7 linked regions of the Homo sapiens genome follow. The protein of the gene in region 1 purifies or fractionates together with the protein of each later gene. This does not show direct contact. Each region holds a gene or a part of one and is shown in the gene's direction. Other genes may lie near its edges. The genes, in order: EMC8, LRPPRC, STAM, FAM186B, NNT, P4HA1 and PDHA1.

Region 1 (3,500 bases):
CTGTTCTAACGTAGTGTTTATAACTTTTATGAATTTCCTAAACTTTAGGTCATTCCATCAAGTTTTATTATATGATTCATTGTTGGCCAGTGTTTTGCTTCATAGTTAGCATTTGATATGAGTAGGTTTCGGTGCCCGGCAGAGAGCCCTGGCCTGAGGCAGACACTCAGGAGGAAGCTTTTAGATACACATTGTAAGATGGCACCTACACGCTGGCCCGACATGGTGCTGTTGAGGGTGAGCAGAGTGGTCTGCCTTCAGGGTGCCTGCAGTTTCAGTTGGCAGCTGGCTCTTCCTAGGAACAAGGAGTTCCTGACTAGCAGGAACCACAGCGTGGCAGTCTTCATTCAGGATCAAGTGGATCAGTATTGGAGATTCAGTGCCTAAGACAGAGAAATGCAAAGTTGGCAGCTGTTTCAAATACTTTGACAGTTCATTAACTACACATTTTTTTTTTGGCGGGGCGGTGGCAGAGCAGACAGAGTCTCACTCTGTCACCCAGGCTGGAGTGCAGTGGCACGATCTCGCCTCAATGCAACCTCCACCTCCTGGGTTCAAAGTATTCTGCTGTCTCAGGCTCCTGAGTAGCTGGAATTACAGGCACCTGCCACCACACCTGGCTAATTTTTGTATTTTTAGTAGAGACGGGGTTTCACCGTGTTGGCCAGGCTGGTCTCGAACTGCTGACCTCAAGTGATCCACCCACCTTAACCTCCCAAAGTGCTGGGATTACAGGCATGAGCCACCACACCCGGCCAACTACAAATTTTTAGACTTCTTTTAAAATAATAAATTTTAGGCCAGCCATGTTGGATCACACCTGTAATCCCAGCACTTTCAGAGGCCAAGGCAGGAGGATTTCTTGAGCCAGGTGTTCAAGACCAGTCTGGGCAACATAGCAAGACCTCATCTCTACAAAAAAATACAAAAATTAGCTGGACATGGTGGCCTACGCCTGTGGTCCCAGCTACAAGGGAGGCTGGGGTGGGAGATCACTTGAGCCTGGGCAGTTGGGGCTGCAGTGAGCCATGATCTCGCCACTGTACTCCAGCCTGGGCAACAGAGCAAGACCCCATCTCAAAAATCAGTGAATAGAAAGACAGATGTTAAGAGTTCTTGAGCATCTGCAATGGTAGTTTTTCTTTTTAATGAGTGTTTCCTTACCCTCTCCCCAATAAAAATCAACAACCAGCATGATCAGTGTTAAGTAGGAGGGTAAGGGCTTTGCAAGCTCTTCATGGCAAGCGGCCCTGCCTTTTGCTTTCCAAGTTCCTCAGCAAATGCAGGAGCAGGCAGAGGTGGGTACATGGGCAGGCCTCCTGAGGGCTCTGTACCCACTCTTCACCACTTGCCGTTAGTGCTGTGGGGACCTGGCGCCCACCGAGTCCTGGTCAGTGCAGTGAAGCACTGCCTTCCCTCTGCGCTAGGAGCCACCATCGCACTGCTTTCTTCAGTACGATTGGCTTCTACCTGAAAACCTCCCCTTCCCTCTTAAGTCATATTTTTCTTAACACAGTCACATTTTTAAGTCATATTTTTCTTAATACTGCAGATTTATAATCAGTACATCACTTTGTCAATTTTGAAAACGAAAATACAATAATCATATAAAATAATTTGTTTTTTAAAAACATTATTAATTTTTTTTAGCCTAATCACAAGGGAAGGATTGTAATTGTATATAGTGTGCTTTGTTAAATAACTCACAATAATGCATGTATTTTTATGGCTGTTAAAAGAAAGATGGGGCCAGGCGCGGTGGCTCACGCCTATATTCCCAGCACTTTGGGAGGCCATCGCGGGCAGATCACGAGGTCAGGAGATCGAGACCATCCTGGCTAACACGGTGAAACCCCATCTCTACTAAAAATACAAAAAATTAGCTGGGCGTGGTGGCGGGCGCCTGTAGTCCCAGCTACTTGGGAGGCTGAGGCAGGAGAATGGCGTGAACCCGGGAGGCAGAGCTTGCAGTGAGCCGAGATCGCGCCACTGCACTCCAGCCTAGGCGACAGAGTGAGACTCCATCTCAAAAAAAGAAAAAAAAAGAAAGATGGATGGCTTGGTCCCTGCCACAAAAAGCTGAAAGCCTTGATTGTGCAGGGCAGACAGGATGCACAGAAGGAAAGCAGCACGTGCCATGGACTCTGTGTTAGAGCCTCTTAGAAATAAATCCTCAGAACTCCAGCAGGGCAGGGGGTCTCATCCAGGGTTTAGCAGGGCTTTGTGGTGAGGGTGGCATGTCTTCTGGGCACTGAAAGAGGGGAAGCAATTCAGTAAGGAGGCCTTGGTGTGGAGGGCCAGACGGGACAGTGTGAGTGAAACAAGACGGGCATGTGAGGCAGATGACATGTAGGCAGATTTCCTGACATTGAAGACACAGCATTGCCCCTGTGGCTGCACACGGTAGCTCAGTTCACCGTAACGAAGGCCTGCCTCTGCCAGCCTGAGAATAGCAGCCTTCATCTTGCAGGCAGTGGTGAGCAGTAGTCTGTGGGGCTGTGAGCACCAGGGGACGTGATGGAAGTTCTGTTTTAGGAAAATTTAGTTCAGGAGAATTTTCAGGTTACATCGGATAAGAAGAGCCTAAGCTGAGCTTCGTAGCACGTGCCTGTGGTCCCAGCTGCTTGTGAGGCTGAGCAGGAAGGATTGATTGAGACCCGGAGTTTGTGGCCATGATCACACCTGTGAATAGCCACCATGCTCCAGCCTGGGCAACGAAGCGAGACTCTGTCTCTTTTTTTTTTGACGTGGAGTCTCACTGTTGCCCAGGCTGGAGTACAGTGGCATGATCTCAGCTCACTGCCACCCCCGCCTCCCGGGTTCAAGCGATTCTCCTGCCTCAGCCTCCGGAGTAGCTGGGTCTACAGATGTGCATCACCACACCCAGCTAGTTTTTATATTTTTAGTAGAGACAGGGTTTCACCATGTTGGCCAGGCTGGTCTCGAACTCCTGACCTCATCAGGTGATCCACCTGCCTCGGCCTCCGAAAGTGCAGGGATTACAGGCGTGAGCCACTGCACCCAGCCGACCCTGTCTCTTTAAAAAAGAGAGCGAGCGAGTGACCGTAGAAATTATGAGACCGGTTAGGAAGCAGTTTTAGAAGCCCCTGCCTAAGGTGAGAGACTGAAGGAAATAAATGACAGGGAGAATGCAGGAAAGGAGGGCAGAGAAAGGACCTGTGGCCTGCAGGGTGGGGAAGAGCAGAGGGAAAGGTGGCCTCAGGTCGGAGAGGCTGGAAATGGACTGGCCTGCCTGAGAGTGGTGGGTTCCCGCTGGGAGGCTTTTGAGGGGGTAGCAGTCTTGGGGCCATCAGGCAGTGGTCAGGAGACTTCCGGAGTGCTGCTCTGCAAGGGAATGGGTTAGATGGCAGATTGCACAGAGCTGTGGTGAGGACATGGAGCAAGACTAGCGGCTTGTTAAAGAAGTTGAAGAAACAGTCATGGAAGGGAGGAGGGAAGCTGGACAGCAGCTAGAGGGAACCGGTTCAATGCTTTTGTTT
Region 2 (4,568 bases), on another chromosome or scaffold:
GTTTTGGTTCTTAAGTGATAGATGGCTGAGATGCTAAAGTGGTCATTTTACTCCTTTTTTGTTTGTTAAGTGGGGTTTAAATTAGAGAAAATTATTGTAGACAGTTCTTAAAATACATTTGTCTATCCCTTCAAAAAAAAATCTGTAGTATATGAGGTAGAGCATACTAATATTTTTATAATGAGCTTTTACATTTGTTCCACAAATCTTTCTTTTATTTGAATTTTTAGAAATTGGGCTTGAAGCCGGGCGTGGTGGCTCATGCCTGTAATCCCAGCACTTTGGGAGGCTGAGGTGGGCAGATCACCTGAGGTCAGGAGTTCAAGACCAGCTTGGCCAACATGGTGAAACCCGGTCTCTACAAAAATATAAAAATTTAGCCGGGCATGATGGCAGGTGCCTGTAATCCCAGCTACTTGGGAGTCTGAGGCAGGAGCGTTGCTTGAACCCGGGAGGCAGAGGTTGCAGTGAGCCGAGATTACACCATTGCACTCCAGCCTGGGAGACAGAGCAAGACTCCATCTCAAAAAAAAAAAAGAAAAAAGAAACTGGGCTTGATCTGATCTGAAGTAACTGCTCTGGAAAATATTTTTATTTTTGAAGAGTAATTTACTAAATGTTATTCTTACCTCGAAAGTTAAGTCTGAGTCATAACCTACATAATATTAAGAGGGTATGTTATTTAATGTCTATGTAATTATTATTATTTTTTAATGGGGGATCAGATGTTTATGATCTTTATTATTTCAGAAACATATATCCAGTTTAATATACATTAGTTCTTTTCTGACATCATAATTCCAAATGGTACTTAGCATTTTTTATTTTAATAAGCATATGTTTTAGTTTGAATAACTATATTAAATTTGGCAAAAGCATAATAATCTGTTTTTTGAATTAACTTGTAGTGATATGGAGAATGCAGAAAACATTCTCACAGTGATGAGAGATGCCGGAATTGAGCCTGGTCCAGACACATACCTCGCATTATTGAATGCATATGCTGAGAAGGGCGACATTGACCATGTTAAGCAGGTATGACTTATGTCTAAATAAACATACTTTAAAATCATTTGTAAAAATTTGTGTTATGTTTTACATGAGGCAGGAAAGTGAAGTTTATACCTGTTTTCAAAGATGTTTCCTTGCAGAAAGTAGTATTTATGGAGAATTATTATAGTTTAGTATCTCGGTGCTGGTATGTAACAGTTACTGTTGAAGTAGAGTATTTCCTGTTTTTTAAAAGAAGTCGTAAACCTTTAGGTGGTATTTTTCCCTAGTTTTTTGAATCTGGATATTTTATTTAGCTTTAATACTTAAATAAAAACACTCTAACTTTGTCTTCTAATTTCTGGAACTCTCTATAGACTCTGGAGAAGGTGGAGAAGTCCGAGCTTCACCTTATGGACCGTGATTTACTGCAAATTATTTTTAGCTTCAGTAAAGCTGGGTATCCTCAGTATGTCTCAGAAATTTTGGAAAAAGTTACATGTGAAAGAAGATATATTCCAGGTAGTTTTAAAAAAATCTATTTACATGATTTTTATAAAAATCTGAATTGCTATTCTTACATGATGGAAAGGACATTTTCTAACAATGGGCATTGTGGGAGTTGAACATAGAACTCTTAAAGTCAGTTAAATAAGCCCAAAAACATGAGTTAATGAACACATGGGGATGATTTGATTTGCAGGTGTTTTATTGTTATTTAGGCAGTTATATGCTTTTGATGTTTGCAATTCTTATTTTGTCTTCAGTATTGGAACATTGGTTGCAGTGTAAAAATATTGTTCAGTTTATTAACAAAAGATGTCTTTGTTTTCTTCCCAGATGCAATGAACCTCATTTTACTTTTAGTCACTGAAAAATTGGAAGATGTAGCGTTGCAAATTTTACTAGCATGCCCCGTATCAAAGGAAGATGGCCCAAGTGTCTTTGGCAGTTTCTTTTTACAACACTGTGTGACTATGAATACGGTATTCTGTCCACTTTTACTTTGTAGACAATGTAATTGGCAGTGAAATAAGATTCTTTAAAGTATAGGAACATTTATAAGATTAGACCAGTTGTAAACATCATAACAATGTTCTTGTGTTGCAAGATTTTTGGGTAGAAAGAGGATGCGGGGTTTAAAATGCTCATCTCAGAAGTGGTAGAATATTTGCAGCAGGTCAAACGGTGGGGTGTTTGCCAATCCAGCTAATGTGGTGACTTTTTTCCCACAGCCTGTGGAGAAGCTAACAGACTACTGTAAGAAGTTAAAGGAAGTCCAGATGCACTCCTTTCCTCTGCAGTTCACCCTCCATTGTGCTTTACTCGCCAATAAAACTGGTACTACATTCTTAAAGTTAAAGCCAAGTAAGGAAGTTTTGCTGAGGTAGCTTTGTGATCTTTTATGATATCTCTTTCAGATTTGGCAAAAGCCTTAATGAAGGCTGTGAAGGAGGAAGGTTTTCCTATCAGACCTCACTATTTCTGGCCATTGCTAGTTGGACGTCGGAAGGAAAAAAATGTTCAAGGTTAGATTTTGCCTTTTACCGATTTGTAATGGTTCCCAGAGCCAGTATGACAGTTTGCACGCACATCTAATTGGATTCTTTGGAAAAGCATACTTATTCCTGAGTATTATGAGATAATGGAATTGTTTTAAGTCATCATGAAGTATTATGTGTAAGCATTTTAAAAAACAAAACATGATGGATTTCTTTCATCTGAATTTCATTAATTTCATTTCTTATTTCATCTCTGATCTTGATATTCAAACTTAATGAACGTAGTTTTTTTAAGTTCTTAAAAAAACTCTTTAGTTCTTGATTTTATATATAGTGTTTGAAATCAGATTGTCTACCTTTAATAAAGATAAAGTTGTATATACAATTAGGTTCATGAAAACAAAAAGTATGGTCATTTTCTTTGTGGGCCAATCTATTTCTTTTTAACTGAGCTTAGTTAGAATAATAGGAAAGGCAGGAAAACTTTTATTGTGAAATGAGTACTCATGACCTGACAGCCTGCTGATTGAAGGACAAAAATGTTCAATCTTTCAGGTTCTTAAGTACGTTTAAGCATTTATCATACTTTTCCCTTGTACACATGGGATGTCTATAGGATATGAATAAGAATTGAACAAATATTAAATTTTAGAGTACAGTATCTAATTCTTCGGTTTGCATTATTGGTAATTCAGAAAGAGTAGTCTCATAAAAAGATGCTTTTAACAGAAGTACTTTCCCCTTGGGGAAACAAAAAATGGTCTTTTTCATTTTATCTCGAAGTATAATGTGCTTTGGAATGAGATGCAGAATTGTTAGTGTGACATTGGGTGACAAACAGAATGCACAAACAACAAAAAAAGTGCTTTTAGCAGACTTTCATATTGCAATTTTATTTTAAATGTACAGCCGTCTTCTGGTTTAAAGGAAATAGTGAAACAAGTATTCCCTAATTGTTTCTGGCTATAAAAGTCTCTAAATCCTTTTTAGAAAAATCTTTGTGAAAACAATATGCTAGTTTGATTAACTCTTTGTATATCCTCCAGTCTGAAAGCTCCAAAAGGTAACCTATAACCCAGTGTTTTGGAACCACAGAAAGTTTACATCATTCCATCAAACTCTTCAGGCATGTTAGTATTGTCCACCTTTACACAAGTATGAAAATTTTTTTGGTACCAGTTGAAATGTTTGTTCATCAGGTTAATCTGCTTTCCACAACCATGTCACAGTTGAATTGATTACTACATTTTTACTACTTAGTAAACATAAAAGAGTTAGGTAATTTCTTTCTATGGTTGTAGCAGTTGAAATAGTAGAAAATGGGCTTTATCTCAAATCCATCTTGTCTTAGAATCTCAGAATTTAGATTTTAAAAGTGCTGTACTGAAAGCTCACATTACGTGAATGAAGGAACTGAGGGCCACACAGACATTCAGTGACTGACCTTAGCTTCCACGTCTAGGTGTGATTAGGCTGGGATTAGAATAGAGGGTTTCTGTCCTCCTTTTAAAATATCCTTTTTTATACTATAACCCTTCCATATTCAGCTTTTGTAAGTACTATACTGTGTTTATTTTCTAAAAATTCTTAGCTGCTGTTTAAAAATTAGTTGCCAGTTTTTACACGAATAACATTGCTAAAAGAGAGTGAATTTTTTAATCGATGAAGGTTTTGTCTGAAAAAATATAAAAGTTTATGCTTTTATATTGTGTGTTCTGAGAGTGCAAAAGATTGTCAGTTTTACAATTTTTAAAAACAATATATTCTTCTTTGCAGTAGGTCCTGAAAGATAGTAAAGTATATATTCTACAGTCTTCTTTTATATAACAGAGAAATGGCTGTATGTATTCTTTATAGTTTCTTTAGTGTAAGGTAAGAAAGTAACATTCTTATTAGTGCAATGAACTTGTTCTTTGTCCAGTGAAAGTCACGTATAAAATGGTAGAAATCACAGAAGAAAGTGACTGCAGTGATGGAGGATGTGCTGTGTTTCATGAGGAATAAATACATCTCTTCAGAAAATCAAAGATATTTGGGGATCAGACAAAGTGGAACCAAGAGTTTTCAACAATAGGA
Region 3 (4,568 bases), on another chromosome or scaffold:
TGAGTTAGTTTTTTCAAGCCATATTAGAGTGTTTTTAACCTGTTCTTTTCCATCATACTTTCATCTGATAAGAAAACAGGTATTTCTATATCTAATTAAATAATATCAGTCTATTTTACATACTGTTTTTGTAGGCACAAGGTATTTTCCTAATGGAAAACCTTTCAGAAACACTGCAAAAAGTCTATGGCACCGTTGAGTTTTTATCTTTATCAATAAGGCTGCTTCCTGGCCATCACAGGATTTTAATACTATACTGCTATTCTTACTGGCTGAACCCACAGCTGGAGTTGCCTCAAAAGTGGTGGCGGGGGAGTTTCCACAAGGGACTGCCCCAAACTGTTCCAGATAGGGCCAGATGAGAGTCCAAAAAAAGAGGCACTAAATGCCAGGGTGATCAGTCTAAAGGATTTATTAGGGGAACTTACACAGGAGGGCTGCAGTTTATAGGAGGGTTTAAGGAATTTGGCTCAGGGTTGGGGCTGGTTTCTGTGTGTTTAGCAACATACTTGATCTTTTAGTGTTTTGGGCCACAACCTGAACAACTTTATCAGTGCCTGAGAATGTTCAAGGCCCCAGTTTGGGTCCAAACCTATGGTGGAAAACATGCAGCTGGCTAGGTCACAGAGCGGGACAAGGCACTCTGTTTTTCTATTGGGACACAGAAAGAAAGCAGGGAGAACTGGGGACCCTACAACTGCCCACTCAACTGTAGAATTCTAGTCACACAGTTCAAGAAATTTTTCAATTTTCAATTAGTAATATGTGAGTTTCCCCAGTAAAAATTTGTGCATTCTAAAAGTAATTATTTTTGGCCTTTTTAGGGGGAGTACTGTAAATCAAGAAAAAGTTTTTGTATGTTAAAAGGGAAAATGCCTCATGTTTTTGGGAAAAATGAATAGTTCCAGGTTACAGTAGAAAAATAGCAGTATAGAAATATAGTAAGAATGTAAAATTCTGTACTTTTCGAACATCATGGTTAAATGATAATTCTTTCCCTTTCCTGCTTTATGCAGTTAATATTTATTTTCTACTAATTAATAAACATTGTCTTTTAATGTCCTGAATGTCCATCGAGATTACAACTGTTTATGAAGAGATTCTAATACCATGTTTTTTGTAATGTAGGTGAAAAATGTGGTATACTTACCTATGTATAATAGTGCAAGCAGCCATTTCCAAAAACGACTTCCTATAGGCAAGAGGACTTCTCTTTATTTTCTGAATGTTTTACAGTGAACATATTGGTTTTGTACTTAATAACATCCCGCCTTTTTTTTTTTTTTTTGAGACAGTGTCTCTCTTTGTCACCCAGGCTGGAGTACAGTGGCGTGATCTCAGCTGACTATAGCCTCTGCCTCCCGGGTTCAAGTGATTCTCCTGCCTCAGCCTCCTGAGTAGCTGGGAATACAGGCATGCGCCACCACGCCTGGCTGGTTTTTGTAGTGTTAGCAGAGATGGGGTTTCACCATGGGGATGGTCAGGCCAGTCTCGAACTCCTGACCTTGTGATTGCCCACCTCGGCCTTCCAAAGTGCTGGGATTACAGGCATGAGCCACCGCGCCCAGCCAACATCCTGCCCTTTTAAAAAATTTCCTTTTATTAAACAAATTAAGTTCATGTATAGTCTCAATAAAGCGTTTGCAAATCCATTATATGCTCCTTGACCAAAATACAGATTACATGTGCACTTAGAAAGAATTTTTTTTCTTCTAATAGAGTAATCTAAAAGTCTAACCTTCTCCATTTTTAAAAGCTTTAGCCAATTATTTAGTAAGCATTGGTTTGAAATACATTCATGACATTTCATAGAGGAGTTATTTCTTCTCTGGTATCTGTGAAGGTTTCTTTATATCTATTACATCAAATAGTAAGACTTCAAATTATTGCCGCTATGAAGATACATCAGTATTTTAATGAACTGGCCAGGTTTTTTCCCTTAATAAGCAATGAGTAAAATAATTTATTTTGAAAACTCACTACATTTATCTCTTTCTTTAATACGGAAGAATAATGCCCTGCACACCTGCCTTAGACTAACTTGAATCTTTGTTATACATCAACCATAAAGAGTTATGTTATTTTGGGCTGGGCACGGTGGCTCATGCCTGTAATCGCAGCACTTTGGGAGGCTGAGGCGGGCGAATCAGTTGGGGTCAGGAGTTCAAGACCAGCCTGGCCAACATGGTAAAACCCCGCGTCTGCTAAAAGTACAAAAATTAGCTGGGCATGGTGGTGCGCGCCTGTAATCCTACTCGGGAGGTTGACACAAGAGAATCGCTTGAACCGCATCCCCCACCCCCCTCTGGGAGGCGGAGGTTGCAGTGTGCTGAGATCGAGCCACTGCAGTCCGGCTTCTGCCACAGGGTGAGACTCTGTCTCAAAAAACAAACCAAAAAAAAAGAAAAGAAAAGAAAGGAAAAAAAGTTATGTTATTTTGAAGAAATTAAATTTTCAAAATGATTAACATGCAGTGTACCTCAAACTAGGCCCCAGATAATTAAGCATCATGGAAAAAATGCATAGTCATGAACATTAAGAAGTCAGGAATTTGGAATAAAGGAACTGTATCATTTATTCTCTCCTTCCCACTTTTTTATTGCTTTGCAAAAAGCAGACACTTTTCCTTGTCTTACTGATGTACAAACCTTGCTTCGTTGCAAAATATTCTGAAAAGTCCTTTCAGATCTCCAAAATCTTATTACCTATTTAATGCTTTAATTTGAAGTGAGATATATATGATGGGTTTTTTCATAGTGTGAACATTAGTTTTATTTCGAATAACTATATTTTCTTGTCTATAGCTATGCATAACTTGTGATTCAAAAAACATCACTTAATAACTTTACTATTTAAAATGTCTGTATTAAATCATTGGCTAGGAAATTGGTGCTCTTTTATTTCTTTTTCTATTTTACAGGGTCATCCTAAAGTATGTGAAAAATTAAAGGCTCTTATGGTTGAATGGACAGATGAATTTAAGAATGATCCACAGCTTAGTCTAATATCAGCAATGATTAAGAACCTTAAGGAACAAGGAGTTACGTTCCCAGCTATTGGCTCTCAGGTATTTTGGGAATGAAGTTGTGTGTGTGCTACAGTTTGTTTCTCTTAAATAGCTATATTTATTTGAATTTTTTTCTTCATTCCCAGGTAATTTTTACTACTTCAGAGGAATTTTCGTTAGCTAATTGTGTTAGTAACTAGTTGTATTGCTAGTTAGTAATACTAGTTTTCTGGCATTCAGAGGTGCCAGAAAAGTATTATAATGGAATATTAATGTGCTCTAACCTCTCTACTTCTTTATAAACGAATTGGTTTAACATTTTGCAGTTTTTGAAATTTTTTGGTATAGTTTTTGTTTGTTTGTTTTTGAGACGGAGTCTTTGTTTGTCGCCCTGGGTAGAGTGCAGTAGCGTGATCTCGGCTCACTGCCACCTCTGCCTCCTGGGTTCAGGTGATTCTCCTGCCGCAGCCTCCTGAGTAGCTGGGACTACATGCACGTGCAGCCAGACCTGGAAATTTTTTTTTTTTTTAAATAGAGGTGGGTTTCACCATGTTGGCCAGGCTGGTTTCGAACTCCTGACCTCAGGTGTTCTGCCCGCCTCGGCCTCCCAAAGTGCTAGGATTACAGGTGTGAGCCACCAGGCCCAGCCAGTACAGTTTTAATAATATACACAAAATAGCTTTATTAATTAGGTAACACTGTCTTTTTAAATGCTCTTAATGCTATAATTTTCTACAAAGAATGATAGCTCAGAAATCAGGATATCCTTAAAAGTTAGGGATGACTTGAGAGATTCTTTTGTGGAGGAAATTTATGAATTCCTCTATTAACAATGAGAGGACTTTAGAAGGGGTAAATGGGAAGAGAAGCACCTGAAGCATTTTCTCCTTAGTAAGAGCCGACCAGTACATAAGTCTTCCTTTCCCCAGTGGATATGGCTAAATAGCTTAACTTTGCTCTCCTGTCCACCCTTGTGCCAAAAAAATTCAGTCTCTAATTTATGTCATGTAGAAAAAAATCAAGAAATGTCTTTTTTATTCCTATTTCTATTTTGGGTAACCTTCCTTTAGGATGCCCAACTAATCAAGAGGCTTAAAATATGTGCTGATTTACTACACTGTCTTTCCCCAGTTTATTGACTGGGACAGACTGTAATGAGTGATGTGAAACCATGAACAGAAATCTGTGAGTGTGGAGGGGCTTATGTTTTGACCACTTCAGGGAGTCATGTAGCTTATCTACATTCATCCAGACCTACATGTGCTTTCTTCCCAAGGCATTTCCAGTTTATCTGAGCACTCTTGAGATGTGAAGACTCAAAAATGTATCTGGGAGAGGAAGGAAGCAAAGGACATTCTTCTTCTTAAAAAAATTTTGGTTTAAAATTTTCTTAAAAAAATTATGTCTTTGAAAATTCATTCATTCATAACTGATAGCTGGTTTTTACTACTCAGTATAGTTTCTAGAATCTGTATAATTAAGGAAAAATCTTAAACAGAATAATCCAAGACATTATACATTCCTTGACAACAGAAACAATGTTTATTTATCAAAGAGTAGA
Region 4 (4,568 bases), on another chromosome or scaffold:
AGGTTGAGAAATCTCTGTGTAGTTGTGACTTCACAACTATACTTCGGCAAAAGCAGTAATGACGGTGGCTTCTGAACACATTAATCTACCATTGTTTTGTCTAGAGCGAACACAGTGAGAATGGATTCCTAATGGCCTGTTTCTCTAAGTGATCGTCACATTTCGCTGCTCTAGTCTTATTTTTATTTATTTATTTTTTTGAGACGGAGTCTCGCTCTGTCGCCCAGGCTGGAGTGCAGTGGCGCCATCTCGGCTCACTGCAAGCTCCGCCTCCCAGGTTCACGCCATTTTCTGCCTCAGCCTCCCGAGTAGCTGGGACTATGGGCACCCACCGCCACGCCCGGGTAATTTTGTTGTATTTTTTAGTGGAGACGGGTTTTCACTGTGTTAGCCAGGATGGTCTCCATCTCCTGACCTCGTGATCCGCCTGCCTCAGCCTCCCAAAATGCTGGGATTACAGGCGTGAACCACCGCGCCCAGCCACTTGCTGCTCTAGTCTTTAAGAACTAGTGGAGCCTTCACTTGAGCTGCCATCTCCTTGCTGCTCAGGGCTTCAACAATTGTAATCACAAACTCAAAGCTGGTCCTAGGCCCTGGGCTTATAAGAATTTCAGGCCGTCCTTTTCCACACGATTCTCAGAGTAGGTGTAATGGCTTCCATTCATCATTTTGTCCTTAGCAAGCGGGAGTGTTGTAACTTTACTTCCAAAACTGATCTCATGAGCCATCAGAGCAGTAGGACCTGCACAGATAGTGGCTATAAGGCCCTTCTGGTTTTCCTGCTCCTTTAGTATCTCCTTCACAGAAGCAGACTCAGGTAAATTCTGTGCACCCAGATTACCTCCTGGTAGAACTACTATGTCATATGGTCCCTCTTTTTTTGCATCTTCAAGACTGGCATCAGGACAAATGAAAACATCAAGGCTACACTGTACTGGGTCTTTTCCAGCCAGACCTGCAATGGTGACCTTAATCCCAGCTTGCCTCATGACATCTACAGGATGACCGTCTCCATTTCCTCTGCTCCTTTAGCCAAAAACTCAAAATAATAATTTAAAACTCAGGTTATATGTTTTCATGCTATTGTAGAACTATTTTATACTAAGACTTTAATTTATACAACGTGAATTTTCCTAACAATAATGTGAGCATATTTTCATGTGCTTATTTGTCATCCATTTATCTCCTTTGGCAAAGCATATTATTGGGTTGTAAAAATTCATCCCATATTCTGGATGCAAGTTCTATACCAGATCTGTATTTCGTGGATATTATCTTTCAGTCTGCGGCATTCCTTTTTTTTTTTTTTGAGACAGAGTCTTGCTCTGTTGCCCAGGCTGGAGTGCAGTTGTGCTATCTTGGCTCACTGCAACCTCCACCTCCCGGGTTCAGGCGATTCTCTTGCCTCAGCCTCCCAAGTATCTGGGATTACAGGCATGCGCCACCATGCCCAGCTAATTTTTGTATTTTTAGTAGAGATGGGTTTTCACCATGTTGGCCAGGCTGGTCTCAAACTCCTGACCTCTGGTGATCCACCCACCTTGGCCTCCCAAAATGTTGGGATTACAGGCGTGAGCCACCACACCCGGCCTGTGTAAGATATTTTGAGAGCAAGAGACCAACCACATTCACGTAACTTTTATTATAGTATATTGTTAAAATTGTTCTATTTTGTTATTGTTATTAATCTCTTACTCTGCCTAATTTAAAAATTAAACTTTATCATAGTTAAGTATATACAGGAAAAACAGTGTATAAAGGGTTTGGTACTGAGGTTTCAGGCGTCCACTGGGGTTCTTGAAATGTATCCCCCAAGGATAAGGGGGATCTACTATATGCAAAACCGAAAGCTATACAACAATGAGAAACATTAAGAGGGAAATTCAGGTGTAAGTGAAGACATTCCTCTGAATTCCCAGGTTTCACTGAGCATCAAAACCCACCAATCTTTCAGTCCTTTTCTTGAATATTATTCTGTATACACATTCTCTGCATCTGATTGGATCCCTGGATTTTATTTCATTTTCTGCATGACATCCTCCACAGATATATATCATTGGCTGCTGCCTTGGGGGTTGAATGTCCTGGGTGTCATTGTGAGCCCCTTTTTACTCTGAGTGTCTTTCTAGTTTTGGCCCAAGTACCCACCACAAACTCCAACCCACCAATTCCCTACCTACCCAGCACTGAGAAATGGCATCTTAATAATATTTATTCTTTCAATTCATGAGCATGCTGTATATCTCCAGTTATGTCTATTTATTTCAGTTTTATAGGTTTATTATTCAAATACTCTGAAGCTCTGTAATTAGGTGCATACACATTTAAGATTGCTTATGTACTCTTGAAAATTTGACCTTTACTATTTATTTTTATAGAGATGAAGTTTCACTATGTTGTCCAGGCTGGTCTCCAAATCTTGCCCTTAAGCGATCCTGCCACCTTGACCTCCCAAAGTATTGGGATTACAGCATGAATCACCTTACCTGGCCCAAAATTTGGACTTTTATCCTTATGAAATGGCCCTCTTTCTTTTCTTTTTTTTTTTTTTGAGATGGAGTCTTGCTGTCACCCAGGCAATGCAGTGGCACCATCTTGGTTGGCTCACTGCAAACTCCACCTCTCAGGTTCAAGTGATTCTTGTGCCTCAGCCTCCCGAGTAGCTGGGATTACAAATGCCTGCCACCACACCTGGCTAATTTTTGTATTTTTAGTAGAGACGGGGTTCGCCATGTTGGCCAGGCTGGTCTCCAATTCTCAACCTCAGGGGATCCGCCCACCTGGGCCTCCCAAAGTGCTGGGATTACAGGCATGAGCCACCCACACCCGGCCGTTTGTTTCTAATTATATTCCTTGCTCTTCAGTGTACATCAGTATTGATATAGTCACTGCAGCTTTTTAAATATTTTTTACTATTTGCATGGTATACCTTCTTCCACTCTTTCACTGTTAACCTCTGTGTCTATATATTATTTACTGGAACACTTCATGAATTTGTGTGTCATCCTTGCACAGAGGCCATGCTAGTAGTCTTCTCTGTATTATTCCAACTTTAGTATATGTGCTACCGAAGTGAGCACTGTGTCTCTATATTTAAATTGGGTTTTTAATTGATACCTTATAGTTGGGTCTTGCTTTTTTATGCAATCTGTCAATCTCTGCCTTTTATTTGGTGGTTTTAGGCTATTTATATTTGATGTGATTATCAACGCAGTTGAGTTTAAATATATAATTTGCTCTTCATTTCTATTTGTCTAATCTGTTCTTTGTTTTTTTCCCTCTTTTCCTGCCTTCTTGTGGAGTAACTGAGCTTTTCAAGTAAATTCATCTTATCTCCACTCCTGACATATTACATATTAGCCATACCTCTTTGTTTTGTTATTTTTTATTTTTATTTTTTGAGAGAGTCTTTCTCTCTCTCCTAAGCTGGAGTGTGGTGGTGCGATCTCAGCTCACCATAACCTCCGCCTCCTGGATTCAAGCGATTCTCATGCCTCAGCCTCCTGAGTAGCTGGGATTACAGGCACCCGCCACCATGTCCGGCTAATTTTTTTGTATTTTTAGTAGAGACACGGTTTTGCCATGTTGGCCAGGCTGGTCTCGAACTCCTGGCCTCATGTGATCCACCCGCCTCAGCCTCCCAAGGTGCTGGGATTACAGGCTTGAGCCACCATGCCCAGCCTGTTTTGTTATTTTATTATTATTATTTTTTGAGACAGAGTCTCACTCTGTTGCCCAGGCTAGAGTGCAGTGGCATGATCTCGGCTCACTGCAACCTCCAACTCCCAGGTTCAAGAGATTCTCCTGCCTCAGCCACCTGAGTAGCTGAGATTATAGGTGCACACCACCACGCCCAGCTAATTTTTGTATTTTTAGTAGAGACTGGGTTTCACCATGTTGGTCAGGCTGGTCTCGAACTCCTGATCATGTGCTCTGCCCACCTCGGCCTCCCAAAGTGCTGGGATTACAGGCGTGAGCCACTGCACTCTAGGGTTTACAATATAAATCTTTAACTTATCATAGTCTACTTTCAAATAATATTATTTCATGTGTAAGAACCTTACAATAGTATACATCTATTTCTTCCCTCCCGGCCTTTGTCCTACTGTTGTCATACATTTTGTCTCTATGTAACTTATAAATCCCCTAATGCAGTTGGCCCTCTGTATCTATGGGTTCTGCATCTGTGGATTCAATCAACCACAGATCAAAAATATTCGGAGAAAAAAATAGATGGTTGTGTCTGTGCTGAACATGAACAGACTTTTTTTTCTTGTTATTCCCTAAACAGTATAACAACTACTTAGATAGTGTTTATATTATATTAGGTATTATAAGTAATCTAGAGACCATTTAATATATACAGGAGGATGTGGGTGGGTGATATGCAAACACTGCACCATTTTATATAAGCATGTGAGCATCCACAAATTTTGGTGCCTGTGAGGAGTCCTGGAGCCAATACCCCACGGATAGCAAGGGACAACTGTACATTGTTATTACTTTTCCCTTAAGCAAAGGGAAAAGAATAATCTATTTACCCCCACACTTAACATTTCCAGTGCTCC
Region 5 (3,500 bases), on another chromosome or scaffold:
CATGTTGCTCAGTGAGCTCAAAGAGGTACTATGTTTTTTATTTCCTTTGGTTTGCTAAGGTGGCTTTCTGGTGACTCAGAGAATGCTGGACATGTTCAAGCGTCCCACTGACCCCCCAGAATACAACTACCTGTACCTGCTCCCTGCCGGCACCTTTGTTGGTGGATATTTAGCTGCCCTCTACAGTGGTTATAACATTGAACAGGTAAGATGCTCTTTGTAAGTTTTTATATTTACCACAATATTTTCTTCTCTATTAGATTTAACATTGTTAGTTATCCTAATTCAAAGTATCGAGCAAATACAACTCTGTCAAGCAAATACAACAATAACCCTAGAAACATCTTGGTCAAACTGAGCATTCTCTTCCCCTAAGGATCAGGACCCTGGATTCTAGAGACAGATTTTTCTGGTAACTGAGTTTAAATATGGGTTTATGTCTTTGTTTTGATACATTTTTCCACATGTAAGAGGAGTTAAGGTTATCAGTATCTTCATTATGTATCTAGCTAGATTGCGGTGGATTTATAATGAAACAATACAAAATTTGAAAAATTATTATTAAGTACTATTAGTTCTTTTCCTATTCTTCCTCTACAAATCCAGCACATCATCTCTTGCTACTAAGAGATGTTATATATTCATAAAAAAATCCATAAAGAAAAGGATAGTTTAAACTTAATGTTGTATAGAAAAACAGAAATAATCCAGCTGGACTTTGAAAGTTCCAACTTGTAATATAACAGACCTTCAGCTTTGTTCTGAACTCTGTATTTTCTATTTCTTTTCAATGGCTGTCTTTTAGTTTCTTCTATGTTTCCAACCTGCAGTATTTATTGAATGAACAATTTTTTTTTTTTTTTTGAGAAGAGTTGGAGCAGTGAGTCAGAAAGACCTTAGTCTGAATTCCAGATTTCCAATTTATTGATCATTTGCCTTGGAGAAAATATGCAACTTCTTTAAGCTTTGATTCTGTCTTTTGCAAAATGAGGATAATGATTTTTCCCTCTTGTGGATCTCATGACACTGTGACAACACAAATAAAACATGTGGCAAAGCCCCTGGCACTTACCTCAGGGGTTGGCTCTTTTACAGCATTTGGTCAGGTTTAGTATTTTTAGATCCAGTAATGACTCCATTTAAATTTAGGTACTTTTATGTGTATTTGTGCATGATAGCAAATCCAGAAAAAATCAATTTATATAAATGGTATAAGTGCAAATACAATATAAGTATTTAATATGTTAATATTCCTAATTGGCAGGAAAATATATTGAAATCTCTAAGCTAATAGACCAAAGGTTTTAATAATCTCTCTCTCACTTTTCCTTTGAAAAGATCATGTACCTAGGCTCGGGTTTGTGCTGTGTCGGTGCCTTGGCTGGCCTCTCCACCCAGGGAACAGCACGTCTTGGCAATGCACTGGGCATGATTGGGGTTGCTGGAGGACTGGCAGCCACCCTCGGAGTCCTAAAACCGGGCCCAGAATTACTAGCTCAGATGTCTGGAGCGATGGCTTTGGGTGGTACCATTGGTAAGCACTTGTGGGCTTCTGCCTTCATGTGAACTCCAGTTTCTCAATATATATTTCTAAGGTCCATATTGATGAAATAATTAAATTTTGTTCATGGAAGTTGCTTCAGTTAATATTATTTTGGTGAAAATTCATTCCAGTTGGTGTAATTCTCATTCAAATACATTTTAGAACACTGAATAAATGCATCAACTGAGTCAAAATATCCTATACTCAATTCTTATCTTCCTTTACTGACTGTGTCCCGTTAGCTGATAATGGAATGGGGGATTGGAATCCTTATGTATGTACTATACATAAGCTAACTTTTGTTCTGCTGGGTATAAATAACAGCCAAAGATTCTGCTTCATAGACCTGTTAAAAATGAAAAAAAAAAAAAAAAACATGTGCCAGCAGAAAAACTACTGTTTTAATTTTATTCAGTTGTTTGCTGGATTGTTAAATTTTCAGGAATTTTTAGGCTGGGCATGGTGGCTCAGACTGTAATCCCAGCACTTTGGGAGGCTGATGTGGGTGGATCACTTGAGGCCAGGAGTTTGAAACTGGCCTGGCCAACATGGTGAAACCCCGTCGCTATTAAATATACAAAAATTAGTTGGGCATGGTGGCGTACAACTGTAATCCCAGCTTCTTGGGTGGCTGAAGCATGATAATCGCTTGAACCTGGGATGTGGAGGTTGCAGTGAGCTGTGATCATGCTGCTGCACTCCAGCCTGGGTGACAAAGCGAGACTCTGTCTCAAAAAAAAAAAAAAAATTTTTTTTCCAGGAATTTTTAAAGTTGATTGTTAAACACAGCCATTATTAAATACTAAATTACATAAACTTAAATGAATCAGAAACAAAGTTAATAATATTAAAAACTCGTAACTTTCTAATTAATTTACTAGGTTTTATTGTCTATGCTCTTGAGGTTACTTATGTCTATTGTATGTGTATAGAAGAAATACTATGTATCAGTGGGCTGTGGTACATCTCTTTCCAATTCTACATTCAATGACATCACATTGGTAGATTGAAATTTGACTTGGTAGCAGTATTGCAGTGTGGAAATAAGCAAACGCTACAAATCTGGGCTTGATTTATTGTTTTGTTTATTGTCCAGACGTGAGAAAGTGATGGAGAAAATGTTAATGATGCAGCTTAAACTTGAGATGTTTTGACTGTAGCTGTGACATTGTGAATAGCACAAATAATTGAGCAAATAATCTTCCAGTATTTGAAAACTATTATCAGATTCAGCAATAAAGTCATTCATATGGTTGATAAATGAGTGAAGTTCTCGCATACATTCTGTTGTTTTACTTTCGTCTTACTTATTAAAGCAAATAAAAATATCAAACAATGTTCCTGTTGGAAGTATGCTTGTTCATCAGTTGCAAACACTAGGTTGGCTACAGATGTAAGAGTTTAGCAAAGATCCATAAAAACATTCTTTGAAAGTCAATTTGTCTACATGGAATTTTCAGTAAAGAGCACTATTTCTTATTATTTGAAAATTGTGTGCTAGCCACCTTTATATCAGTTAAAGCTCATGTATTTGTATGTGCATGTATTTTTTTCCCCTGGAACTGGTTATTAAATGTTTCCCAGTGGAACACTGGCTTTAGGCCTCCTTTTATACTTCCTCAGGAAAGCTTTGACTCTTTTCTTGATAATCTCTGGGGAAAGGGACTTGAAGGAAAATGTTTGCTCTGTAGGTTCATGGCAGGAAAACCTTTAGACATGATCTTAGCAAATATTCTGAGCCCCACTCCTTCTGTATCACCTACCTATAGCCATGCAGTTCCTTCAGAGGCTCCTAATTTGGGTATTTACTGCCCAGATTTTTGCATTTCTTTACCTTGGGACTTTGCTCCCACCTACCCACCTGAAAACCAAGGTCTTCTTCATGTTCCAGGTGTTTCTTATGTGCTCAGGAGAAAGCACTGGCTATAGAGAAGAGGGCCTGGGTTGCAATGGGGAG
Region 6 (4,568 bases), on another chromosome or scaffold:
GTCACCATCTTGGCCGGGCGGGTCTCGAACTCCTGACCGGGGGTGATCCATCAGCCTCGGCCTCCCAAAGTGCTGGGATTACAGGCATGAGCCACCGCACCTGGCCTGCAGTTACTTCCTTTAACCTCAAAGATATTTTGAAAATAGACCTCAATTTACTATGCCTGAATTTAAAAAACCTTAATATTGTATTTGAAAATAGTGAATAGTGACCATTGCCACCAAGTAGAGTGATAGTAATAAGTAAAACACTAATCTTTGATATAAGGGTGATTACTAATAAATTGAATAAACTGATATATTTTAACGACTTTATTGAGCAAAATTGACAGGACAAATTGCATATATTTACAGTGTACAATTTGATAAATTTGACAAAAATATCTACTTAAAAAAATATCAGTACAATCAAGATAAGGAACATATCCATCACCTTCAAGAGTATCCTCAAGGTCAGGCACAGTGGCTTAGGCCTGTAATCCCAACCCTTTGGGTGGCCGAGGCAGGAGGACTGCTTGAGCCCAGGAGTTCCAGACCAGCCTGGGCGACATAGAAAGACTTCATCTCTACACAAAATAAAATAACATTAGCTGGGTGTGATGGTGCCTGCCTGTAATCCTAGCTACTTGGGAGGCCGAGGCAGGAGGATTGCTTGAGCTGGGGAGGTTGAGTCTTCAATGAACTGTGATTGTGCTACTGTACTCCAGCCTGGTGACCGAAATGAGTCTCTGTCTCAAAAAAGAGTATACTTGGCCAGGCGCAGTGGCTCACACCTGTAATCCCAACACTCTGGGGGGCCGAGGCAGGAGGACTGCTTGAGCCCAGAAGTTCAAGACCAGCCTGCGCAACATGGTAAAACCCTGTCTCTACAAAAAAATTAAAAAGCCAGGTGTGGTGTTGTGTGCCTGCAGTCCCCGCTACTTGGGAGACTGAGGTGGGAGACTCACCCAAAGCCTGGAGATTAAGGCTGCGGTGAGCCAAGATCACGCTACTGCACTCTAGCCGGGGCATCGGCAGTATCCTTATGACTTTTTGTAATCCCTTCTTTTGCTCCTTACTACCCTCTCTGTATCCCTAGGAAACCATTGTTTCCTTTCTGTTGCTTAAGATTAGTTTTTATTTTCTAGAATTTTATAAAAATGGAATTGTATATACGCTTTTTTTTTTTTTTTTTAGCACGGGGAATCTCCTTACACTCAGCATAATTTGAGATTCATCCATGTTGTTATGTGTTCATAGTTTTTTATTGTTGAATAGTATTTTATTTTATGAATATACCATGATTTTTTTTAACCCATTTACCCTTTGATGGACATTTGGATTGTTTTCACTTTTTGACTATTATGAATAAAGCTGCTATGAGCATTCATGTACAAGTTGTTGGAGAGAGATATGCTTTCTTTTCTCTTATATTAATGCCTAGGAGTGCAATAGCTAGATGTGATAGGGAAATATTTTTTCCCAGTTGTTGGCTTGTCTTCATTCTTTAAACAGTGTGCTTCAAAGAGCAGTTTCTATTCACAGACAACATGTCTGTGACTCTTCAAAAAAGCTCTAGTGAATAGGTTAATTCAGCAGAGTTGTAGCTTAGAAGGTCAATATACAACAGTAAATTGTATTTCTATATACTAATAATGAACAATTAGAAACTAAAGTGAAAAATTCCCATCTCATTAGCACTAAAAACCATGAAATACTTAAGTATTAACTTTTCAAATGGTGTGTAATATTTGTATGTTGAAAATTATGAAACACTGATTATATCATGTTCATGGATTAGAAGACTCAGTATTAAGATACCTACTCTTCTCAAACTGATTTATAGATTCAGCACATTTCTAGTCCAAATCTCAGAGGATTTCTTATAGAAATTAATGAGCCGATTCTAAAATTAATATGGAAAACCAAAGGAACTAGAAAAGCTAAAACAATTTTGAAAAAGAATAACAAAGTTGGAAGATTCATACTACCTGATTTCAACTTAGTTTAAAGCTGCAATAACCAAGACTGTGGTATTGGAGAAAAGATAGACATACAGATCAATTGAACAAAATAGAGAATTTAGTCACACAAAAATTGTCAATTCATTTTGAAAAAGTTTAAGGGCAGTTCAACAGAGGATAGTCTGGAACAGTTGAATATTCATATGCAAAGAAAAAACAATCTTTGTTTTATTTGGGCACCAAGTATCCACTGTTGGACACTGGGCAGTCCCTTGCCCAGGAATTTATGTGAATATTGGGACAAGTGACATGAATCCACCAGTGGATATGAAATAAAGTTTAATCACACAGTAAACAGCAAAAGGACTCCTCAAGGTCAAGGACTTAGGTTTAGTCCAGGATGAAGCAAGAGTGAAACAGGGTGGGTGGCTTTGGTTTTTATTGACCAGAAGGTGGAACTTGTTTGATGGTCCCCATGTGTGGTATTTACATGGTTTCAACTTCACACCAGTACCAAGGGAGGGAATACTGGTCCCCAAGTGTGGTATTTATATGGTTTCAACTTTACACCAATACCAAGGGAGGGAGTACCTGGGCTTTCTTACAGACTTACCCAGATGTGGGACAAAAGGGAGAGAGGTGTGGGACCTGAAGGCAATCTGCACTCAAACATCAAAATGAAATCTTTTTATTAGAGCCTCAATCTGTACTTGACACTGTATGCAAAAATTAGTTCAAAATGGTTCGTAGGCCGGGTCTGGTCGCACACGTTTGTAATCCCAGCATTTTGGGAGGTTGAGGCAGGAGGATTGCTTGAGCCCAGGAGTTTGAGACTAGCCTTGGCAAGAGTGAGACCCGTTTCTATTTTAAAAAATGTTCATAGATTGTGAAGTAAAATGTACAGCTATAAAATATTTGAAAGAAAACATAGGACAAAAATATTTTTGACCATGGGTCAGGCAGAGATTTCTTGGACATGATGCCAAGAACATGATTCATAAATGAACAAACTGATAAATTAGACTTCATCAAAATTAAGAAATTCTGCTCTTCCAAACACACTGTTGAGAGAATAAAAAGACTTCACAGACTGGGAGAAAATATTCCCCATCACATATCTGACAAAAAATAGACTGTATAAGGAACTCAAAGCTGGGCATGGTGGCTCACGTCTGTAATCCCAGCACTTTGGGAGGCCAAGACTGGAGGATTGCTTGAAAATCCAGGAGTTTGAGACCAGCTTGGGCAACATAGCAAGACCCCATCTCTATTAAAAAAAGTAAACAACCTAATTAAAAAGAGCAAAAGATTTGAGTAGACACTATGCAGGAAGGTGTATGAACAGCAGATAAACACCCCAAAAGGTGTTAAACATAGGCCAGGCATGGTGGGTCATGCCTGTAATCCCAGCACTTTGGGAAGCTGAGGTGGGTGGACCATCTGAGGTCAGGAGTTCAAGACTAGCCCGGCCAACATAGCGAAACCGTCTCTACTAAAAATACAAAATTGGTCAGGTGTGGTGGCACGTGCCTGTAATCCCAGCTACCTAGGAGGCTGAGACACGAGAATCACTTGAACCCAGGAGGTGGAGGTTGCAGTGAGACAAGATTGTGCCACTGCATTCCAGCCTGGGCGACAGAGTGAGACTCTGTCTCAAAAAAAAAAAAAAAAAATAAAGGCATTAAACATCATTAGTAATTATGGAATTGCAAATTAAACCCATAATGAGATAGTACTATATGTCTATTGTGAAAATTAAGATATTAAGAGAAACTAAGGAAAAAACGGCAATACAAAATGCTGGTAAGAATGGGAGCAATGGAAACTTTCATCCTTTGCTGTTGGAAGGGCAAATAGTGTAGCTACTTTGGAGAAACGTTTGGCAGTTTTTTATGAAGGTAAATATATACTTGTCATATGACCCAACATTCCCGCTCCTAGGTATTTACCCAAGTGAAATGAGAACTTAGGTTGATTTCCTCTTTTTTTTTTTTTTTTTTTTTTTTTTGAGATGCACTCTCACTCTTTTACCCAGGCTGGAGTGCAGTGACACAATCTCGGCTCACTGCAACCTCCACCTCCTGGGTTCAAGCAATTCTCCTGCCTCAGCCTCCCAAGTAGCTGGGATTTACAGGCATGTGCCACCACGCCTGGCTAATTTTTGTATTTTTAGTAGAGATGGGGTTTCACCATGTTGGCCAGGTTGGTCTTGAACTCCTGACCTCAAGTGATCTGCCTGCCTCAGCCTCCCAAAGTGCCGGGATTACAGGCGTGAGCCACCGCTCCCAGCCTGTTTTCTTTTTAATTTTTTTAAAACAGTTTTATTGAGTAATAATTCACGTACCATGCAATTTTCCCTTTAAAGTATACATTTCAGTGGCTTTTAATATATTCACAGTTGTGTTACCACAACAATCAATTTTAAAACATTTATATCACTCCAAAAAGAAACCCCAGAGCCAGTAGCAGTCACTCCCATTGTCCCTTGCCTAACCCTGGGCAACCACTAATCTACTTTTTGTTTCTAGAGATTATTTTACTTAATGTTTTCAAGGTTCATTTGTGTTATAACATATATCAGTACTTCATTTCTGTTTATAGCCAAATAATATTCCATTGTACGGA
Region 7 (3,997 bases), on another chromosome or scaffold:
TAATTTTCTTTTATTTATTTATTTTTTTGAGACAGTCTCTCTCTGTCGCCCAGGTTAGAGTACAGTGGTGATCTTGGCTCACTGCAGCCTCTGGTTAGAGTACAGTGTGATCTTGGCTCACTGCAGCCTCTGTCCACTGGGCTCAAGCAATCCTCCCACCTCAGCCTCCCGAGTATGTGGGACCACAGGTGCACACCAACACACCCAGCTAATTTTTGTATTTTTTGGAGATACGGGGTTTCACTATGTTGCCCAGGCTAGTCTCAAACTTCTGGGCTCAAGTGGTCCGCCCACCTTGGCCTCCCAAGGTGCTAGGATTACAGGCGTGAGCCACTGTGCCTGGCTGAAGCCAGTATTTTAGAATTAAAAAGTAGAATGCCAAAACCTGCTATGAAGCTTAGGCTAAAGAATTCATTCACACATAACATTGCCAGTTTTCTGTACCTGTTCTTAGAGTTTTACTATTTTAAAACTTTCTGGCACTATGATCGCCTGTACTGTATATAATTTGGAGAGAAAGGATTAGTTTGTTTTTTGTTTTGTGGGCTTAGGTCAAGGGTTAGAGTCAAATACCTACAAGGGCCAGCCAGGTAGAATAAATGAGTGAAGAAGGCTAGGTATACAAAACAGAAAATGGTGACAGGGACTCATGCTGAACTGGCACCAGCATGCCCTACCCAGAGGAATGCCATGACTTGGTTCCAGCCAGTTGGTGCCATGTGGAAATCAGGGGTAATGTTTCCTGTTTTCCATGTCTAAGAGAAGGCGGAAGTCTGGATTTTCATGTGAAATTCCCCAGTGTTTTAATGTTGACATCTGATGTAGGCTTTTCTTTTAGGTCATCATACAGGAGAAAGGAAGGAAGTGGCACATGTGTGGGTTGCCAGTTTATTGCTTCTGGTTTGGGCCTTCCACTCTGTATTTTGGTGGAAAATAGCTACTTTCTCTGGTTATTAATGACAGGTTCTACTAGCCCACATATTTCACTGTGGTCTAGGAAACGTTTTTATTTAGAAACATGTATCATATTGCCTCATAGTTTCTCCTTCCTCTAACACAGGAAGCTTGCTGTGTGGGCCTGGAGGCCGGCATCAACCCCACAGACCATCTCATCACAGCCTACCGGGCTCACGGCTTTACTTTCACCCGGGGCCTTTCCGTCCGAGAAATTCTCGCAGAGCTTACAGGTTTGCTGTTGATTTACAGAAAGGGGAAATGAGTGGATTAAGTTTTTAAATATCTGTCATTAAGATGCTATTATGAGTTAATATTTGTTAAAAATTTTAAGTTTCTTTTTTTAACCCTCTCTCCTTTGGTGCTCTGGTACTTCTGTTGTGCTCTTGAGTTAACTGACCATTTGTGAAGTTCTCTGGCCCCTCAGGTAAAAGTTTAAAACAGGTTGGTGCTATAAAATCACAGTAGGTTTGGTTATCATTCAAGCATGCCAGAAGAAGTCTAGCAGTCATAGAAAGTAAGTTCGGTTGAAGCACTCCATGGTATGCAATGTAAATTCTAGAAATCTTCTTAATATTCCCCTTTTCTTTGTCCCCCGTGACTATTTGTTTGTTTTGGTGGTTTTTTTTTTTTTTTTTTTTTGAGACTGTGTCTCACTCCGTTGTCCAGGCTGGTGTGCAGTGGTGTGATCACGGCTCACTGCAACCTCCACCTCCCGGGTTCAAGTGATTCTCATGCCTCCACCTCCTGAGTAGCTGGGACTACAGGCATGCACCACCACACCTGGCTAATTTTTGTATTTTTAGTAGAGATGGGGTTTCAACATGTTGGCCAGGCTGGTCTCCAACTCCTGACCTCAGGTGATCCACCTGCCTTGGCCTCCCAAAGTGTGCTGGGGTTACAGGCGTGAGCCACCGCACCTGGCCTGTTTTGTTTTTTTGAGACAGAGTCTCGCTTTGTTGCCCAGGCTGGAGTGCAGTGGCCTGCCTCAGCCTCCCAAAATGCTAGGATTACAGGCGTGAGCCACTGTGCCCGGTCCTCCTCCTCCTCCTTTTTTTTTTTTTTTTTTGAGACAGAGTTTCACTCTTTCACCCAGGCTGGAGTGGCTGGAGTGAAGTGGTATGATTTTGGCTCACTGCAGCCTCCGCCCCCCGGGTTCAAGCAATTCTCCTGCCTCAGCCTCCTGAGTAGCTAGGATTATAGGTGCCCAACCACCACACCTGGCTAATTTCTGTATTTTTAGTAGAGACCAGGTTTCACCATGTTGGCCAGGCTGGTCTTGAACTCTTGACCTCAGGTGATCCACCCTCTTCGGCCTCCCAAAATGTTAGGATTACAGGCGTGAGCCGCCGTGCCCGGCCCTCCTTGACTCTTGAACTATGGTTGTCCCTCTATATATCCAGGGGATTGGTTCTAGGACCCTCGAGTATACAAAAATCCTCAAATACTCAAGTCCCAAAGTCAGCCTTCCATATCTTCGGGTTTGCATCCTGAGAATATTCTATTTTCAATACATGTGTGGCTGAAAAAAAATCTGTGTATAAGTGTACCTGTGCAGTTCAAACCCTGTTCAAGGATTGAATATATTTAGTGTACTAGTATAGGAGAGGTCCTAAGATGTTTGTAACTGGCCAGAAAACCCAGAAAAGTCCAGGGTATCATCTGGATGGAACATCTGAAGGAAACTAAGTGACTAGAGAGTAGGAAAAGCTGGAAAGGTTGAAGCACATGGAACTAGTGAAAGGACAAGGAGAAACATGTGTTTGCCTGGAGGGACAGGTACTTAGACGACTGAACTGGCCTCTGTGTTCTAATGGTTGAGCCTCAGAGTACATATTTGGGGTGCGGTTTGGTTTGCTTTGTAGAGTTGGTTTGTTCTGCACATGTGTATGTTCTGCCATTTCCAGGACGAAAAGGAGGTTGTGCTAAAGGGAAAGGAGGATCGATGCACATGTATGCCAAGAACTTCTACGGGGGCAATGGCATCGTGGGAGCGCAGGTAGTCAAGGACGAGGATTGTGTGCTGCTTTAGATTTGGCCCTGGACTTTGTCTTCAAAAACTTTCACAGCCCCAGACAACTTTTCCTGAAGTAGTACAGCCATGTGCTGCACAGTGACGCTTTGGTCAATGTCGCATATATGATGTTGGACCCATAAGATTATAATGGAGCTGAAAAATTCCTGTCGCCTAGTGATGTTGTAGTGGCACAACACATTACCTTTTCTACGTTTAGGTACACAAATATTTTGCCTACAGGATTCAGTAGAGTCACATGCTGTGCAGGGTTGTAGCCTAGGAGCAGTAGGCTCTACTATACAGCCTAGGTGTGCAGTGGGCTGTACCATCTAGGTTCGTGCATTACAGTATGGTGTTCACATGACAAAATCGCCTAGTGATGCAATTCTGAGAATATATCCCTGTTGTTAAGTGACGCGTGACTATTTTGGGGGCTTGGTTTGCTTTTAAAGACCTAGTGCTTCATATCCTACCGTTTGAGAGATGAGTAGATTTGGATGGTGATTTATAATGTTTCCTTTTAGGTGTCTGCTGTTTTATAAGTAAGCAGGAACCTCTAGCAGTGGAGCCATACCTTCCCCTTCCTATTTATATTTCAGTACATTAATTGCTTTATCTTGTCAACTTCATTTTGGGGTCCTTGTTCTCATCAGTTAGTGAATGATGAAGAATTAACAGCACAAAATTATATCCGGACTGTTTCTTTTCCTTTCTAATATATTAAGATTCTATTATGTGTTGTTTTTTTTTAAACCTAGGTTTTATTTTTCCTTTTGAAATGGAGTCTTGCTCAGCCGCCCAGGCTGGAGCAGTGGTGTAATCTCAGCTCACTGCAACCTCCACCCCCGGGTTCAAGCAATTCTCCTGCCTCAGCCTCCCGAGTAGCTGGGAATATAGTTACGTGCCACCATGCCCAACCATTTTTTGTATTTTTAGTAGAGACGGGGTTTCACCATCTTGTCCAGGATGGTCTCGATCTGTGGACCTCGTGATCTGCCCAAAGTGCTGGGATTACAGGCGTGAGCC

Evidence for each region.
Region 2: the proteins of EMC8 (region 1) and LRPPRC fractionate together in Homo sapiens (co-fractionation; one large-scale study listed by BioGRID). This does not show direct contact.
Region 3: the proteins of EMC8 (region 1) and STAM purify together in Homo sapiens (affinity purification with mass spectrometry; one large-scale study listed by BioGRID and IntAct). This does not show direct contact.
Region 4: the proteins of EMC8 (region 1) and FAM186B purify together in Homo sapiens (affinity purification with mass spectrometry; one large-scale study listed by BioGRID and IntAct). This does not show direct contact.
Region 5: the proteins of EMC8 (region 1) and NNT fractionate together in Homo sapiens (co-fractionation; one large-scale study listed by BioGRID). This does not show direct contact.
Region 6: the proteins of EMC8 (region 1) and P4HA1 fractionate together in Homo sapiens (co-fractionation; one large-scale study listed by BioGRID). This does not show direct contact.
Region 7: the proteins of EMC8 (region 1) and PDHA1 fractionate together in Homo sapiens (co-fractionation; one large-scale study listed by BioGRID). This does not show direct contact.

The regions. Positions count from the first base shown.
Region 1 is NC_000016.10:85,782,545-85,786,044, reverse strand, and holds part of EMC8 (ER membrane protein complex subunit 8), read left to right. Parts: intron 1-3,500. UniProt on the Homo sapiens protein: Part of the endoplasmic reticulum membrane protein complex (EMC) that enables the energy-independent insertion into endoplasmic reticulum membranes of newly synthesized membrane proteins.
Region 2 is NC_000002.12:43,971,558-43,976,125, reverse strand, and holds part of LRPPRC (leucine-rich PPR motif-containing protein, mitochondrial precursor), read left to right. Parts: intron 1-908; coding exon 909-1,035; intron 1,036-1,367; coding exon 1,368-1,512; intron 1,513-1,830; coding exon 1,831-1,976; intron 1,977-2,225; coding exon 2,226-2,331; intron 2,332-2,411; coding exon 2,412-2,519; intron 2,520-4,568. UniProt on the Homo sapiens protein: May play a role in RNA metabolism in both nuclei and mitochondria. In the nucleus binds to HNRPA1-associated poly(A) mRNAs and is part of nmRNP complexes at late stages of mRNA maturation which are possibly associated with nuclear mRNA export.
Region 3 is NC_000010.11:17,685,107-17,689,674, forward strand, and holds part of STAM (signal transducing adapter molecule 1), read left to right. Parts: intron 1-2,920; coding exon 2,921-3,067; intron 3,068-4,568. UniProt on the Homo sapiens protein: Involved in intracellular signal transduction mediated by cytokines and growth factors. Upon IL-2 and GM-CSL stimulation, it plays a role in signaling leading to DNA synthesis and MYC induction. May also play a role in T-cell development.
Region 4 is NC_000012.12:49,591,616-49,596,183, reverse strand, and holds part of FAM186B (protein FAM186B), read left to right. Parts: intron 1-1,725; exon of another isoform or gene 1,726-2,104; intron 2,105-4,568.
Region 5 is NC_000005.10:43,651,680-43,655,179, forward strand, and holds part of NNT (NAD(P) transhydrogenase, mitochondrial), read left to right. Parts: intron 1-59; coding exon 60-205; intron 206-1,338; coding exon 1,339-1,534; intron 1,535-3,500. UniProt on the Homo sapiens protein: The transhydrogenation between NADH and NADP is coupled to respiration and ATP hydrolysis and functions as a proton pump across the membrane. May play a role in reactive oxygen species (ROS) detoxification in the adrenal gland.
Region 6 is NC_000010.11:73,086,317-73,090,884, reverse strand, and holds part of P4HA1 (prolyl 4-hydroxylase subunit alpha-1 isoform 2 precursor), read left to right. Parts: intron 1-4,568. UniProt on the Homo sapiens protein: Catalyzes the post-translational formation of 4-hydroxyproline in -Xaa-Pro-Gly- sequences in collagens and other proteins.
Region 7 is NC_000023.11:19,350,221-19,354,217, forward strand, and holds part of PDHA1 (pyruvate dehydrogenase E1 component subunit alpha, somatic form, mitochondrial isoform 1 precursor), read left to right. Parts: intron 1-1,039; coding exon of another isoform or gene 1,040-1,060; coding exon 1,061-1,187; intron 1,188-2,861; coding exon 2,862-2,953; intron 2,954-3,997. UniProt on the Homo sapiens protein: The pyruvate dehydrogenase complex catalyzes the overall conversion of pyruvate to acetyl-CoA and CO(2), and thereby links the glycolytic pathway to the tricarboxylic cycle.